2 separate regions of the Homo sapiens genome follow, and region 2 is linked to region 1. Evidence: fine-mapped expression QTL. Tissue or cell type: nucleus accumbens. Region 1 holds a variant in brackets; the other region holds the start of a gene. All regions are shown on one strand. Distances are between the middles of the regions.

Region 1 (8,104 bases):
ACAGAATACGAACTCAGACCCTTCATGGTTCTTGACAATTTCCTTTGAGATTTTTTTTTTGACCTATGCATTAGGTAGTAGTTGTTTAATTTCTAAATATTTTGCATAATTCCAGGCATGTTATTTTTATTGATTTCTAATTTAATTCTGTTGTGGTCAGAGAACCTACTATGTAAGATCTCAATCCTTTAAAAACATTGAGACTTATTTTGTGTCCCAGCATATTGTATCTAAAATATATGTTTCATGTGCACATAAACAAGTTACATATTTATAGTGTATGGATGCAATGTTTATTGTTAACCCAGTAAAATTGGCTAATAATGTTATTCAAACAAATAGTTGTTTTTCTTAGGCTTGCTCTTTGTGTGGAATATTTATTTGCATCTTAGTACTCTCAAACAATCTGCAGTTTTATATATAAAGTATGCCTCTTATAGGTAGCATATGGTTGGATATTGCTTTTAATATCTAGTGTGACTATTACTGCATCTTAATAGGAATGTTTAGTACATTTACATTTAATGTAATTATTGGTATGGCTGGGTTTAAGTATATCTATCATATTGCTATTTGTTTTTTTAGTCATCCCAACTATTTTTTTCCTTTGTTCTTCCTTTCTTGCCGTCACATGGATTAATCAGATATTTTTAGTGTTTCATTTTAATTTATCCACTGATATTTAGCTTAACTTCATTGTATATTTTAGAGATTTTTCTAAGTATTTATATACACATATACTTACCATAGTCTACTTAGAGTACATACTGTGCCACTACTTATACAATGCAAGAAACTTCTAACAGTAAAACTACTCTCCTCTTACAGTCCTTTATGCTATCATTGTATATATTTTGTTATCTATCCACATAATAAATGATATAATACAATGTTATTCTTTCTGGTTTAATCAGTCAATTTTATAAATTCCCAGCCTGGGCGACAGAGAGAGACTCTATCTCAAAAAAAAAACAAAACAAAATTAGCATACAGTAGAATTGGCCCTTTTGGTATTGGTATACAGATGCATGCATATTAACACACGTATGTTGTTACTGTTATATTAACTGTTATAGTAATACTGTTATATATATACTGTTATATTAACTGTTATATTAACATATGTATGTTGTTAATATGCATGATTGGCCCTTTTGGTATATTGGTATACAGATACATGCATATTAACACATGTGTAAACACCACCATAGTCAGAATTCAGAATAGTTCTATCATCCCCAAAACTTTCCTGATTCTGTTCCATTGTAAGTCACACTCACCTCCATTCCGAATCCCTGACAATCAGTTATCTGTTTTCTATCACTGTAGTCTTTTGGAAACTGTTATATAAATGAAATCTGTAGTATCAACTTTGATTCTGGCCTCATTTACTGAGCATTCAGATTGCTACGTGTATCAATAGTTTGTTGCTTTTTAGTGCTAAGTAGTGTTTCATTGTGTGGATGTACTAAAGTTTGCTTATGTATTCACCTAAGGGTTTTAGGGATTTGGGGACTGAGCTAGGAAAAACATATGACAATGAGAGGCAGTAACACACAACTTTATTGAGTGGCAGTAAGACAGGGTTGCATGAGACAGTCTAATGAGACCACCAATGAGAAAGGGAATAAGGCAAGAGAACTCTGGAGGGAGGGTTGAATATGGGGCTTATGTATGTATCTCAAGGGTGTCTCACAGCAGCACAGCAGGAAGTCTTGGGTCAGGCAAACCAAAGGCAGCAGGAATTTTGGGTTTTATAACTGCAAGGCCCTATTTATCAGTAGGTAACAGCTGTTGGGTGAGGTTTCTTGGAGTATGCAAAGCAGGAAAGCTCTAAATAGCTAAAAATTTGCTTGTTCAGGCAATTTTATAAATAACTCGGTATGTACAAATTTGAGTTTGGTTTGGGCAGGATTTTGAGCTAACTGGTCTCAACCTACAATAAACATAGGGGCCAAAACACAGAGGCCATCTTTGGCTCATTTATGTAACCATTCATCCCTTGAAGAACATCTGGGTTGTTTCCAGTGGGCAATTATAAACAGAGCCTCTATCAACATTCCTGTACCAGTTTTAGAATGAACATAAATTTATATTTCTCTAAGTACTCAGGAGTAGAATTGACGTTCTGTCATATGGTAAGTGTGTGTTTCACTTTATAAGAAACTTGCTGTTTCCCAGAGTGGCTGAACCATTTTGCATTCCCACAGCAATGTTTGCAGTTCCAACTGTTCTGCATGGTCACTCTCACTTGACATTGTCGTTATTTTTATTTATGTGTGTAATTGCATTTCAACAAGGTTTTAATTTGCATTTTCATAATGACTAACGATGTTAAATATCTTTTCATGTGCTCATTTGCTCTCCTTAAATACTGTTTGGTAAAGTGTCTGTTCACCTCTTTTGCCCATTTTTTAATTTGGTTGTTTGCTTACTTATTGTTGAATTAAAAAATTTCCTTTTAGATTCTGAATGCAAGTCTTATGTTGGATATGTGATTTGCGCATATTTTCTCCCAATCTGTAGCCTTTCTTTTTACTCTCTTAGCAGTGTTGTTTCAGAGTTAAAGTTTTTAATTTTGATGTAGTCCAATTTGTCCAAAAATTAATTTTCAGTTTTTATATTTTGAAGGTTTGTTTTTAGCTTCCATATACATTTAGGGTTTTTATGTAATTCTTATAAATGAACTCTTTTATTATTGTATGATATCCTGCTAAATTTGTTTGCTCTGAAGTCTACTTTGTCTGATATTAATATAACCACTTGAGCTTTCTTTTGGTTAGTGTTTGCATTTTGTATCTTTTCTCCTAATTTTAATGTACTGATATCTTTATGCTTGAAGCAGAATTTTTATAGAGAGTATATAATTGGATTATGTATTTTTAAAAACTTGTTCTGACAATCTCTTTATTTGGTGCATTTAGATCATTTACCTGTAATGTAATTGTTGATGTGTTTGAATGTAGTTCTATCATTTTATTCTTTGTATCTCCTTGTTCCTCTGTTTATCATCCCTGTGTGTTCCCATTCCTGCCTTCTTTTGGGTTATTTAATAATTTTTTTTTTTTTTTTTAGACAGAGTCTTGCTCTGTCGGCCAGGCTGGAGTGCAGTGGTGCAATCTTGGCTCACTGCAACCTCCGTCTCCCTGGCTCAAGCGATTCTCCTGCCTCAGCTTCCTGAGTAGCTGGCACTACAGGTGGGCGCCAACACGCCCAGCTAATTTTTGTATTTTTAGTAGAGACGGGGTTTCACCATGTTGGCCAGGCTGGTCTTGAGTTCTTGACCTCAGCCCGCCTCTGCCTTCCAAAGTGCTGGGATTACAGGTGCGAGCCACTGTGCCCGGCTTATTTAATAATTTTTAATTCAATTCTATATCTTGTGTTTTTGAATACATCTCATTGTGTACGTACTTTTTTTAAATTAAAAAAAGTGGTAGCCCTAGTAATTACAATATTTTCATTTAAATGTTCACTATCTACACAGAATCAGTATTTTACTGTATCATGTGTTTTGAAATCTTACCTCTCTATAGGTTCCTTCTTCCCCCTTTATGTTGTAATTTCTTATATGATTTTTTTTTTTTTTTTTGAAACGGAGTCTCACTCTGTCACCCAGGCTGGAGTGCAGCGGTGCCATCTCGGCTCGCTGCAAGCTCCACCTCCCGGGTTCACGCCATTCTCCTGCCTCAGCCTCCCGAGTAGCTGGGACTACAGGTGCCCACCACCACGCCCGGCTAATTTTTTGTATTTTCAGTAGAGATGGGGTTTCACCGTGTTAGCCAGGATGGTCTCGATCTCCTGACCTCATGATCCGCCCACCTCGGCCTCCCAAAGTGCTGGGATTACAGGCGTGAGCCACCG[C/T]GCCCGGCCTATATGTTTATTACGTATTGCATCTACATACTTTGAAATTTCATTTAAAAATATTGTTTTACTTTGAAACATAACATATTTTAAAGAATTCAACAGAAGAATAGTTTACTCAATTTTTTCGTATATTTTAAATTTCTTTTGCTTTTTTAAAATTTCTGCTCTGAAGTTTCTTTCTGGTACCATTTCCTTTGTGTCTAGTGACTACTTTAGCAATTCTCTTAGAGCAGGTCCACTGACAATGAATTCTCTTGGTTTTACTTTAAATGAGAACTTCTTTATTCTCCTTTTTTTTGGAAACATACTTCACATACCATAAAATGTACCTTTTTAAAGTACACAATTTGTTTTTTATTTTTTTTTTTTTGCATATTCTCAAAGTTGTGCAACTATCACCATTACCTAAAGCTAGAACCTTTATATCACCACCACCACCCGTAAAATCCCTGTATACATTAGCAGTTCATTCTTCTTTTCTACCTAGCCCCTAGCCATCAATAATCTTTCTGTCTCTATGAATCTGTCTATTCTGGACATTGCCTACAACTGAAATCATAGAATATGTGGCGGTTTCTTTCTGGCTTCTTTCACTTTGCACAATTTCTTTGAGTTTTATCCATATTAGCATGTATCAGAACTTAAGTATTTTTTACAGCAGAATAGCATTTCATTGTATGGATATAACATATTATATTTATCTACTCATCAATTGATTGATAGTTGGAGTGTTTGTATCTTTTGGCTATTATGAATAGTGCTGCTATGAATATTCATGTATAAGTTTTTGTGTAAATATGTGTTTTCAATTATCTTGGGTCTATACCTAGAAGTAGAATTGTTGGGGCATATGGAACTCTATATTTAATTTTTTTAGGAGCTGCCAAACTGTTTTCCAAAGCAGCTGCATCATTTTATATTCCTATGAGCAATGTGTAAGGGTTTCAATTTCTTCACCTGCTCGCAAACATTTGTTATTGTCTCTTTTTTATTATAGCCATCCTAGTAGATGTGAAGTGGTATCTTATTGTGGTTTTGATGTACATTTCTGAAGAGTATTTTTCTTGGACCTAGAATTCTTGGTTGAAATTTTTTTATTATTATTATTTTGGTATCAGAAATTTTTGATGAGAAATCCACTGTCTTGTGTACTGTTTTCCTTTTTTAAGCAATGCATCTTTTTTTGTCTGGCTGCTTTTAAGATTTTTTCTTTGTCTTTATTTTCAAAGTTTGATTGTAATATGTCTTTGCATTGATTTATTTGTGTTTTCGCTGTTTGCAATTTTCTGAGCTTCTTGAATCTGTAGGTTTATTTTTTCCCCCAAACTTGAAGAGTTTCTATACATTATTTCTTTAAATATTATGTCTCCACTGCAGTCTTTATTATTTCTTTCTACGACTCAGATGAAACAAATGCTAGGCATTTCTATTTTATCCCACAGATTAATTTGTTTTGTTTTGTTTTGAGACAGAGTCTTGCTCTGTTGTCCAGGCTGGAATGCAGTGGCACAATCTCAGCTCACTGCAACCTCTGCCTTCCAGGTTCAAGCGATTCTCATTCCTCAGCCTCCTGAGTAGCTGGGATTACAGGTGCCCACCACCACACCCAGCTAATTTTTGTATTTTTAGTAGAGACAGTGTTTCACCATGTTGGCCAGGCTGGTCTCGAACTCCTGAACTCAGGTGATCCTCCTGCCTCAGCCTGCCAAAGTGCTGGATTATAGGCATGAGCCATCGCACCCAGCCCAGATTAATTTTTAATCAATCTTTTCTTAGTTTTTAAGGTTGAATATTTCTATTGATCTATCCTCAAGTTCCAGTGAACTTTTCACTCTGTCATCTCAATTATGCTATTGAGTACACCTAATGAGTTTTAACATTTTATTCATTGTATGTTTTAGTTCTGGATTTTATATTTGGTTCTTTTGTGTATTGTATATACATTTATGTATGTTTGGCTCTATTTTGGGCTGAGACTTTCTATTACCTGATTTATTTTAAAGATGCTTAGGCCAGGTGCTGTGGCTCATGCCTTTATTCCGTGCACTTTGGGAGGCCTAGGCAAGTGGATTGCCTGAGCCAGGAGTTTAAGACCAACCCAGGCAATGTGGTGAAACCCCATTTCTACTAGATAGATAGATAGATAGATAGATACATACATACATACATACATACATACATACATACATACATACATACATAGAACCAAAGTTAGCTGGGCATGGTGGTATCTGTCTACAGTCCCAGCTACTCATGAGGCTGAAGTGAGAGGATGGCTTGAGCCCAGAAGACAGAGGTTGCTGTGAGCAGAGATCATGCACTCCACTCCAGCCTAGGCAACAGAGCCAGACTCTGTCTCAAAAAATTAAAAATAAAAATAAATACGTTTACCCTTACTAGTGGGATAATTATCAAAGCCTTTGTCAGACAAATTTAGCATCAGTTGGAAAGGTTTACTGTTGGATGAGTTCCAATATCTGACTGTTGTCATCCGTTGGTTGTCTTTTCTCATGCAATTTGTAATTTCATTGGTTCTTCATGTGCCATGTAATTTGGTATTATATTCTGGACATTTTCAATATTGTGTACTACAGGACTGGGTCTTGTATATACCCTGTGGAGAATATTGACATTTTTGTTTTAGCAGCCAATTGACCTGATTGGGCTTAGATTGTAAATTCTGAGTGGCCTTCTCTGGGATAAAGTCTCTATATTAGTTTACTTTTAACAGCCTTTGCAGTCCTATTTAAATTTGTCCTACATGTGTACCCTCTGGTGGTCAATCTGGGACATGGGTCATGGTCTCTTAGTTTAGTTCTCAATGTCTTTGTAGGCTGCTTTGAATCAGAACCTGAATGCTAAACTTGAGGTTGATTTCAGGAGTTCATAAACACCTTAATGGTATTGTTTCCCAAGCTCCTCCTTTTCTGCAGTCTTGGTACTGGGATTCTCCTTTTTTAGTCCTCTAGCCAAAAACCTGAAGTTTTATTTACTTTGCTTTTGCACTTTCTTTCTGGAACTATGTCTATATCCAAGGCCAACCAGTGTGTATCTGGAGAGAGTAGGGGGCAGAGAGGAAAAATCAACAGGAACTTGCCTCACCCCCTTTGGACAGTAGCTCTTTTCACTGAAGAGGAAGGCTCTTCTTTCTTTGAGTTCCCAGCGCTGTGGGTTCTGGCTGCCACAACTTGTATTAACAGGAGACCCCTTTTCCTCTTCTTGAGCCTGAACTAGAGGGCTTCTCTTCGAGATCTTTTTATCAATGCTTATTGTGTTTCTGGAGTTCTGGCTGCCTTGAGACCAGGTCAAGAGATACCACAGGGAAAAAAAAAATGGTGAATGACATGTTGAATACAAGCAGAGACACTTGACACCTTAGTGTTGAGCATGACTTTAATGAGAATGATTTTTAAATTTCACTGTTACATATGATGTTTTCTGTGGCTTTTAAATTAAATATCTTTCATTAAGCTTTTCATTTTTACTTTTCTTATTGTAATATATGTTTTATTATGTGTATAGATTGAATTTTATTGAATACTGTTTCTTTTCCTATTGAAATAACCATATAATTTCCTGGTTTGTTAATGTGGTAAATTATATCAATAGGTTTTCTGATTTGGGCCCCTTATACTTCTGGAGTAAAGAGGCTCTTAAATTAAACATAAATGTGGTGGTACACTTTATTACAGGTTTTACACAAAAATGAATTAACCCAGTGTTACATTGGTGGTCTCTGCTGTGTTAAATGTTTTAGTTTAGAGGGTTTTATATTTGGTTACAGATTTCCGTATGGTTGTATATTTATTGTAGCTTTAAATAGTTGAAATATTGCTTTTGATATGAAATTTAAATCAGACTTTATCTTTTTTCTGAGGTTGGTTGGAAGACATGAAGCTGAGCTGTTTCGTATTTTGTTGGGCATTTACTCAGAGTAGGCAGCTGCCAATAAGAATCAAGGGTATTAGAAGACACCCAAAAGGCCCTCAGTTTTGGCCATGACAGTGTAACTAGTACTAGACTTTCATTCCCACAGAAAACTACTATTAAATTAGACAAACATGAAGCAGGTGTTTTCAGACACTGAACATTACACAGTGCAGAACTGTGATTGTTGAGAGAAAGGAAACACACAAAATGAGCCTCAAGGTGTTACAGAACAGAGATATACAGGAAAGGACTCCCAATCCAGACCCCAAGAGAGGGTTCTTGGATCTCGCACAAGAAAGAATTTAGGGCA
Region 2 (8,104 bases), 740 kb after region 1:
GGATGCTCTTTCTCTGCAGATTGGTCCTTGTGTTCTATATGACAGGTGGGAGAGCTCTGTCTCCAGAGCTGTAGCAGTAGATGGGATAGTGGTCTCTCCTTATCAGCACTGTGGGGAAAACATTCTCGGGATTCTACCCTTTCTTCTCTAACAGGCCTTGTAGTGTTCCTAGAAAAAATATACAGAAAAATGTAAACTCTATGTCTGTAGACTCCAGGGTTTCTCATTCTCCTCACCCACTGACACACAGCCACCAGGAACTAGTTCAAATGTTCTGGCTTAATTATACCAGTTCACCAGGGTGCACTTGAAAGCCTGGGGCCAGGCTCCTGCATGCCCTGATGTTGAGTTTGTTGTCTTCCCCATGACCTCAGTTCTCTAAAGGGCTCAGGAGAAATCGACCATGCGTTTGTAGTTTCTCCAGCTTTTTTGTTTGTTTGGTTGGTTAATGTGTAGGAACAACTCTTTTTGTCAGGTCTCTACATCTACAATCTTAACTCAGAAACTAATATTTTTAGATATATTTCTTTCCTGTTATACCTTTAGTGCTCCTCTGCCTATGCTACTTGTTCTTCAGTATTTTTATATTGTATGTCTTTATCTCTCTATTTTAAAACCAGGTTTAATTCCTTCTTAATCTAATTAACAACTTTTCTATTTTCTTTCATTTATTCTCCTACGTGACTTTCTTCTGAGGCATTTAAAGTATTGATGTGTGTTTCGAGTGCAGGAGGTCAGATTATACATTGACATTTGTCCTTGACCACTGCACATATCACTTCAGCCCTGATTACCTGAAGCCAGATCTACTCTTAACATGTATTAATTTTACTATTCAATAAATATTAAGTCATCATGAACTGTATATATTGTTGCAGTTGTAGGCTTTATGGACCTGAATAGACAATAAACTAAATAAAAACCAAATTACATGGCCTCAAGGGGTATAATTTTTGATTAATGTTTTGGTTAATGAAAACATTCTTGTCTTTCTGTGATTTGCAACCTTGAGTGATTGTCTTGAAATAGGAACCACAGTTGAAACTGAAGTAGTTAGGTGTTAGTGAGATTTTGATGGCTAGGAACATCAGGCTTATTTTATAACTGAAAGGGAAATGAGAACACGTCACCAGTTCCATATGATCACAATGCATTTGGAATAATCACCATGGCAACCCATGACTGTTGTATTTTGAGAGAGAAGAATTGGAAATATAATGACCAAGCATAAAGCTGACCCAATCTAACATAGATCTTTGTCTTTAACACATATCTGTAATATTCATGTAGGCAGTGTATAAATAACTTATCAGAATTATCATTTATGTGCAGGTTCTTCTTTAATTTTCAAGGTTTTGTTTCTCCAGTAGTGAGTGTGGTACTGAGCAAAAGGGGCTTGCTATGCAATGCACAATAAATTAACACTTTGACACTGTTTTTATTTTTTATTTTTTAAAAAGCTTTTATTATAAATTTTGTTAGTTTTAAATTTTTTTTAATGTCAATATCATTTGGGTACAAGTGGTTTTTGGTTACATGAATGAATTATATAGTGTTGGATTCTGAGATTTTAGTGCACTTGTCACCTGAGTAGTATATATTGTACTCAACAGGTAGTTTTTTCATCCTTCATCCACCTGCCACCCTCATGTCTGAGTCTCCAAAGTCCATTATGTCACCCCGCATGCCTTTGCATACGCATGGCTTAGCTCCAACTTATAAGTGAGAACATATGGCATTTGATTTTTAATTCCTGAGTTATTTCACTTGGAATAATGGCCTCCAGCTTCATTCAAGTTGCTGCAAAAGACATTATTTCATTCCTGAGGTGCTGACCTCAGGTTTACTGGACACGTCTCAGAGACAGGGCAGGGGATGAGGGCAAGACCCCTCTAAGGCACTCCCCCACACCCTATCACTCCTGCTCTTAAAGGACCCCTGAAGGGCACTGAAGGGGTTGGACTTCTCAGTGCAAGCCAACACCCACACCTCCGAGTACCAACAGCCCCAGAGAACAGCAGGGGTCCTCAATCCTGAGCACCCCTCCAAGGAGGTCAGGAGAACAAGCCTTAAGCCAGAGAGTGAAGAGGATCAGTGTCTCGGACCCAGAGAGGATTCAGGGAAAGGGCACAGGAGGGACCCCAGTCCAGAGCCAGACAGAGTTCAGCTGAATGTGGGAACTCATGCCATGGAGTGGATAGCCCTGGATGACTGAAGAGCCCAGTGCCCAGGGGCGTCTCACCCACTGTGGAGACAGGCCCTTATATTAGGTGGCAATGGGGCCACCTGAGTTCTGGACCATGGCTCAAGCCCAGGCCAAGCAGCCCTGGAGTAAGGGCATGAGGCAGGGGGCCCCAAGCCAAGTTGAACACTGGGGTACCGTCCCTGGAGCAGCCTGGGGTACCCTGACAGCACCCATGCCCCAGTCTGCACACACCCCTTGTTCTGAAATTAACAGCCTGCAGGGGTGTCCTCAGTATCAGAACTAGTGGGCCACACAAAGCCCTGGAGGACTCTACAAACCCAGGTCCATGGGGAGCAGCCCTGTAAGGGCCAGATGGCTGGGTGGAAAAGCTGACCAAGTCTTCCTTCCTTTCAGCCAAATCTGGAAGAAAGGCACCTTGCCTAGAGCAGTGTTCCTGGTACCCAGGCCTCTGTGGGCATCCTTCAGCACAAAGACCCTCTCCAAGGGGGGATGGGCTGGCCCTCCCAGGACCACCAACCCACTTCCAGAAGCCCATGGGTCATCCCCACCTTCACCTGACTGGGCTGTCCCTGACGCTAAGGCCCAGCAGCACGAAGGGGATTCCACACAAATCAGGGCAGTAGGCTGCTCTCTGGCGGCACTGGGGGCTTAGGGTCTGGCCAGCCTGTCCCTGGCTCAGGACACATGCCTGGAAATTAGGGTTTTCTCCTCTGCTCTTAGCATCTCCTGGGTAAACCAATAATTACTCTCCCTCATGTCTCAAAATTCACATCTATCTAAAAGGCGCTAGTGAGGGTGACATTTCCAGGAAGCCATAGCCCATGTCACCCCCTGCAAAGCTGTGACCTTTTCCGCGGGCAGGCCAGGCGGCGGAGTTCTCCCAAAAGCGGATGAACTGGCACTCTGGCTGGAGAAAGCAGAGAGCAGCAGCACAATGGACAGCGTCTGGGACCTCAGGCCGATTCCACAGCAGCTTAGGAAAGCAGGAGGCCCCCTGGGCGGGAGGAGGCTTGATGCTCTGGAGGGAAACGGAACTGAGCAGCGGGAGGTGGGGTGAGCCTGAGACCCGACCGATTTTGGCAAAGGCGAGGCGCACTTTGCAGTATCATACTCTCCTCACTGCCCAGCCCAGACCTGCCCTTCAAGTCCCTCTATGGACTCACTCCCCTTAGCCAGGGGTGGCACAGATTCAGTAGCCAGCATGGGTTTGGAAACAGAGGTCAACACCGCCCTGCCCCTCCCTGCGGGGCTGCGCAACACCCTTGAACCCTGCGCATGCTGAGACTGTAGTCCCATAGCCCTGCGACCAACGGCCGGAAGCAGCTAAGACACTATTACCAGCATGCCCGGCAGGAGGGCACCGCGCTGCCCCCCCCCCTCAAGGGACCAGCATCATCCCCACTCCCGTAGCATACTGGGATTGTAGTCCCGCAGCTCTGCCACCAACAGCCAGAAGCAGTTAAAAAACTGTTCCTCTCAGCATGCCCTGCAAGGCGCGCACCGCTGCTGTACCTCCCTTAACGTATCCGTAACCTCCCTCAACGTATCCGTACCTCCCTCAACGTATCCATACCTCCCTCAAGGTATCCGTACCTTCCTCAAGCTATCCGCACCACCCTCTCTTCCATTTCATGCGAAGATTGTAGTCCCGCAGCCCTGCGACCAGCGGCCGGAAGCAGCTAAGATGCTACTGCTCCCAGCATGCCCCGCGAGGCGCGCACAGCACAGGCCCTCTCTCAAGGTCACCACCTCCACTCCCGTTGTATGCTGGGATTGTAGTCCGGCCGCCCTGTGACTAACGGCTGGAACCGCCTAAGACACCACCCCAGCCAGCATGGCCGGCAGGAGCGCACCGCGCTGTCTCCCTCCAGGGATCCGCACCGCCCTACAATCCTGCTTTGTGCTGAGATTGTAGTCCTGCAGGCGTACAACTAACAAGCTGGGTGCAGATAAGAGACTACAGCTCCCCGCATCCCAAGCAAAGGTCCCTCCTCTACGGAGCCCCTCCACGCGTCCACTGCGGTTCCGCCGTGCCAAGGGGAGCTTGGCTGTTCACGGGCCTCACCTGCTAGCGAGAAGATAGCTTGGCCGGGCGGCTGATCTCACCTTGTAATTCTGACACTGTGTCTCCCGGGCTTGTCGGCTTCATGACTTGTGCCCAAAGTTTGATTTCTCGCAGACCAGGTAAAAGCCAAGAGGCTCTCATAGGCGCCTTGGCAGAGTTGCCATTGGAACGGGCGTCCTCTAGTAGCTGGGATCTCCCCGCCCCTTCCTCCTGAGGGGCCACTCCTTTCTGCCCCACCCTTCTTATTGCCCCACCCTTTGCCACACTCCTTCAGAGATGCGCAGTGCTGCCCCTTTCTATGGGCAGGGCCGAAGGTCCGCGTGTAAAAGTACCCAGTCCCTGGTAACCTGACACTTCCCTTTTAAAAGCCACCTTTTGTCTATCTCTGGCCTGCCACGATTCTTCCTGTGCTCCATAGGAGGACCCATTGGACCCCCGGGCTGGCTGCAGGGCCCACACCTGGGTTAGACCTCGCACAGGGACGCTGCTGCCACTGTAATAAAGCGTGCCTACACGCTTCTGAAACTGGTGTAGGAACAACCTCAGTTCTGTGAAAGGCGGACGCAGCAGGACAGAATCTCCGTGGACATCTGTCTGGAGGAGCAATTTTACTGCGACATTTTAAAGAAACAAATTTAATTGATTTCCAAGGTAAGAAATTAAACCTTGAAAACTAAACTGAAAAGTCATCTGTGTTTGACAAGTCAGACTTTCTCCAAGAAGAAAACTAAGGAGTGCATATTTTCCATTATTATAAATAGTGAAAATGAGAAATCATAGCAACTCCCTGGAAAATCTTGCTCTGCCAGTTTTCTAAATCACAGTAGGGCCTCGATATGGTTTTATTTGTTTTTGTTTTTGTTTTGGAGTGTGTTCACCTTTTGAATATAAGAATTTGCGGTTTTGACCAAGTTTTTAAATTTTCAGCTATTGTTTATTTGTTTTTGTATTATATTTAATTTTTCTGTCTCTCCCTCTCTGTCTCAGACTCAATCATTTCACAGGTCTCTTAGGCCTCTTTTCATTTTCTTTAAACTTGTTTCAGTCTTCAGATTGGATGGTTTATATTGCTGTCTTCTGTTTCTACTCTGTAAACTAAAAGTTCTTTTTATTTTATTATTTTATTGTCTTCTATTTTACTCTTTTTATAATTTCCATGTCTCTGCTGAGACTCTACATGAGTTAATTCATTATGAGAATATTTTCCTTTACCCCCATGAACGTACTTATAATAGCTGCCCTGAAATACTTGTCTGCTGATTACATCATCTCGGACATCTTAGAAATAGCTTCTGCTGCCTGCTTTTTATCTTGTGTATAGTTTGCATGTTACATTTCTTCACACATTTTATGAATTTTAATATTGTGTAATAGAAATTATAAATATTAGTTATAGAGACTAAATTCTGTTGTATTCTTTGGAAGAGCATTGTTATTATTTGAAGAGGGGGTAAATGTGGCTGAATTCAAACAGAATAATTATCTTCCCTACGGTGGGAAAGGTTGAAATTCTCATTCAGTCACACACACGTATGTATGTATTGTATATAGATGAATGTTTCTATGTAACTATATATAATATTTTATCCAGATTGTATCATTGTTATCTGTGAGAGTGTTAGTTTAGCAAGCTACTCCAGTATTACCGGAAGCCAGAACTTCAGTTTTGTTTTCTTACTGGATTTTATGTAAATGAGAGTATCTACTATGGATAGTTTTACACCTACTTTTTCTTTTTTTCTTTTTTAGTTATTTGAGACAGAGTCTCGCTCTGTCACCAGGCTGTACAGTGCCGTGGCCTGTCTCGGCTCACTGCAACCTCCACCTCCTGGGTTCAAGCGATTCTTATGCCTCAGCCTCCCAAGTATCTGGGACTACAGGCATGCGCCACCACGCCCAGCTGATTTTTGTATTTTTAGTAGAGACGGGGTTTCACCATGTTGACCAGGATGGTCTCAATCTCTTGACCTCGTTATCCGGCTGCCTCCTCCTCCCAAAGTGCTGGGATTACAGGCGTGAGCCACCATGCCTGGCCACATCTACTTTTTTAAATGTGTCATTATATTTGTGATATTGTCATGATGTTTTCTACTTATATTTTATTCAAAAATTTTATACTTTAAGTTCTTACCTTTAGGTCTTTGATGCATTTTTATTTGTTTATGGTGTAGGGTAAATGTTCAACTTCATCCTTTTGCTTGTGGATATCCATTTTTTCCCAGCACCAATTGTTATAAAGACAGTCCTTTGCCCATTGAACGGTCTTTGTATCCCCATCAAAAATTATTTGACCATATGCTGCTTTATACTGTTCCAGTGTCCATATGTGTGTCTCTTTGCCAGTACCACACTATTTTGGAACTTTGTATTAAGCTTTGGAATGAATAAGTGTACATTTTGTAACACTGGACTTCTTTTTCAAGATAATTTTGACTCATTGGGGTCCCTTGAGATTCCATATGAAATTTAGGTAGGATTTTTCTATTTCTGCAAAATAGAATTTTTTGCTTTTTTTGTTACTCCCGACGTATTTTATTCTTTTCAGTGCTATTGTAAATGTGCTTGTTTGCTTAGTTTTGTTTTCTAATTATTCATCATTACTGTATAGAAACACAAGTGATATTTGCATGTTAATTTTGTATGCTGCTACTATGCTGAATTTATTAGTTGTAATACTTTTTGTGTGGATCTGTGAAATCTCTAGAGCTTTCCACATAAAATTATATTATCTGTAGGCTAGAGTAATTTTACCTCTACATTTCCAATTTGGATAGTTTGTTTCTTTTTAATTCTTAATTTGACTAGAACTTCCAACACTATGTGGAATAGAAATAGCAAAAGCAGACACCTTTGCCTTGTTCCTGAGCTTAGAGCAGAAGCTTTTTGTCTTTCACCCTGGAGTACATTGTTTGATGTGGTTTTTTAATGTGTGGATTTCACAATGGTAGTATTTTAGTTTTAAAATTCCTACTTTTTTGAGTGTTTTCACCCTGAAAAGATTTTGAATTTCATAAAATACTTTTCTCTGCATCCATGAGGTGATCAATGTTTCTTTTATTTTGTTAATGTGTACACATTGATCAATTTTTATATGTTAAAAAATTCATGTTTTAAGATATCCTTGCATTCTAAGAATAAATTGCACTTGGTCGTGGTGAGATCATCTTTCTTTTTTTTTAAATTTTATTATTATTATACTTTAAGTTATAGGGTACATGTGCACAATGTGCAGGTTAGTTACATATGTATACATGTGCCATGCTGGTGTGCTGCACCCATTAAATTGTCATTTAGCATTAGGTATATCTCCTAAAGCTATCCCTCCCCGCTCCCCCCACCCCACAACAGTCCCCAGAGTGTGATGTTCCCCTTCCTGTGTCCATGTGTTCTCATTGTTCAATTCCCACCTATGAGTGAGAATATGCAGTGTTTGGTTTTTTGTTCTTGCGATAGTTTACTGAGAATGATGATTTCCAATTTCATCCATGTCCCTACAAAGGACATGAACTCATCATTTTTTATGGCTGCATAGTATTCCATGGTGTATATGTGCCACATTTTCTTAATCCAGTCTATCGTTGGACATTTGGGTTGCTTCCAAGTCTTTGCTATTGTGAATAGTGCCGCAATAAACATACGTGTGCATGTGTCTTTATAGCAGCATTATTTATAGTCCTTAGGGTATACACCCAGTAATGGGATGGCTGGGTCAAATGGTATTTCTAGTTCTAGATCCCGGAGGAATCACCACACTGACTTCCACAATGGTTGAACTAGTTTACAGTCCCACCAACAGTGTAAAAGTGTTCCTATTTCTCCACATCCTCTCCAGC

The links. PIP is the estimated chance that this variant, and not a neighbour inherited with it, causes the effect.
Region 2: LINC02987 starts here. The variant in region 1 is fine-mapped to the expression of LINC02987 in nucleus accumbens (GTEx, PIP above 0.99).

What each region holds. Positions count from the first base shown.
Region 1 is chr19:28,529,134-28,537,237 of GRCh38, reverse strand. It overlaps the pseudogene LOC100420587. Among named protein-coding and RNA genes, the nearest start is that of ERVE-5, 74 kb to the left of the region's middle. The variant C/T (reference allele first, on the strand shown) is at 3,862.
Region 2 is chr19:27,789,818-27,797,921 of GRCh38, reverse strand. LINC02987 (long intergenic non-protein coding RNA 2987) reads right to left here and starts at 4,491. Exons shown (of 7, transcript NR_146733.1): 1 at 4,313-4,491. LINC00662 (long intergenic non-protein coding RNA 662) reads left to right here and starts at 3,982. Exons shown (of 3, transcript NR_027301.1): 1 at 3,982-4,390; 2 at 4,690-4,922; 3 at 6,021-7,429. RefSeq lists enhancers at 1,822-2,603, 3,770-4,249.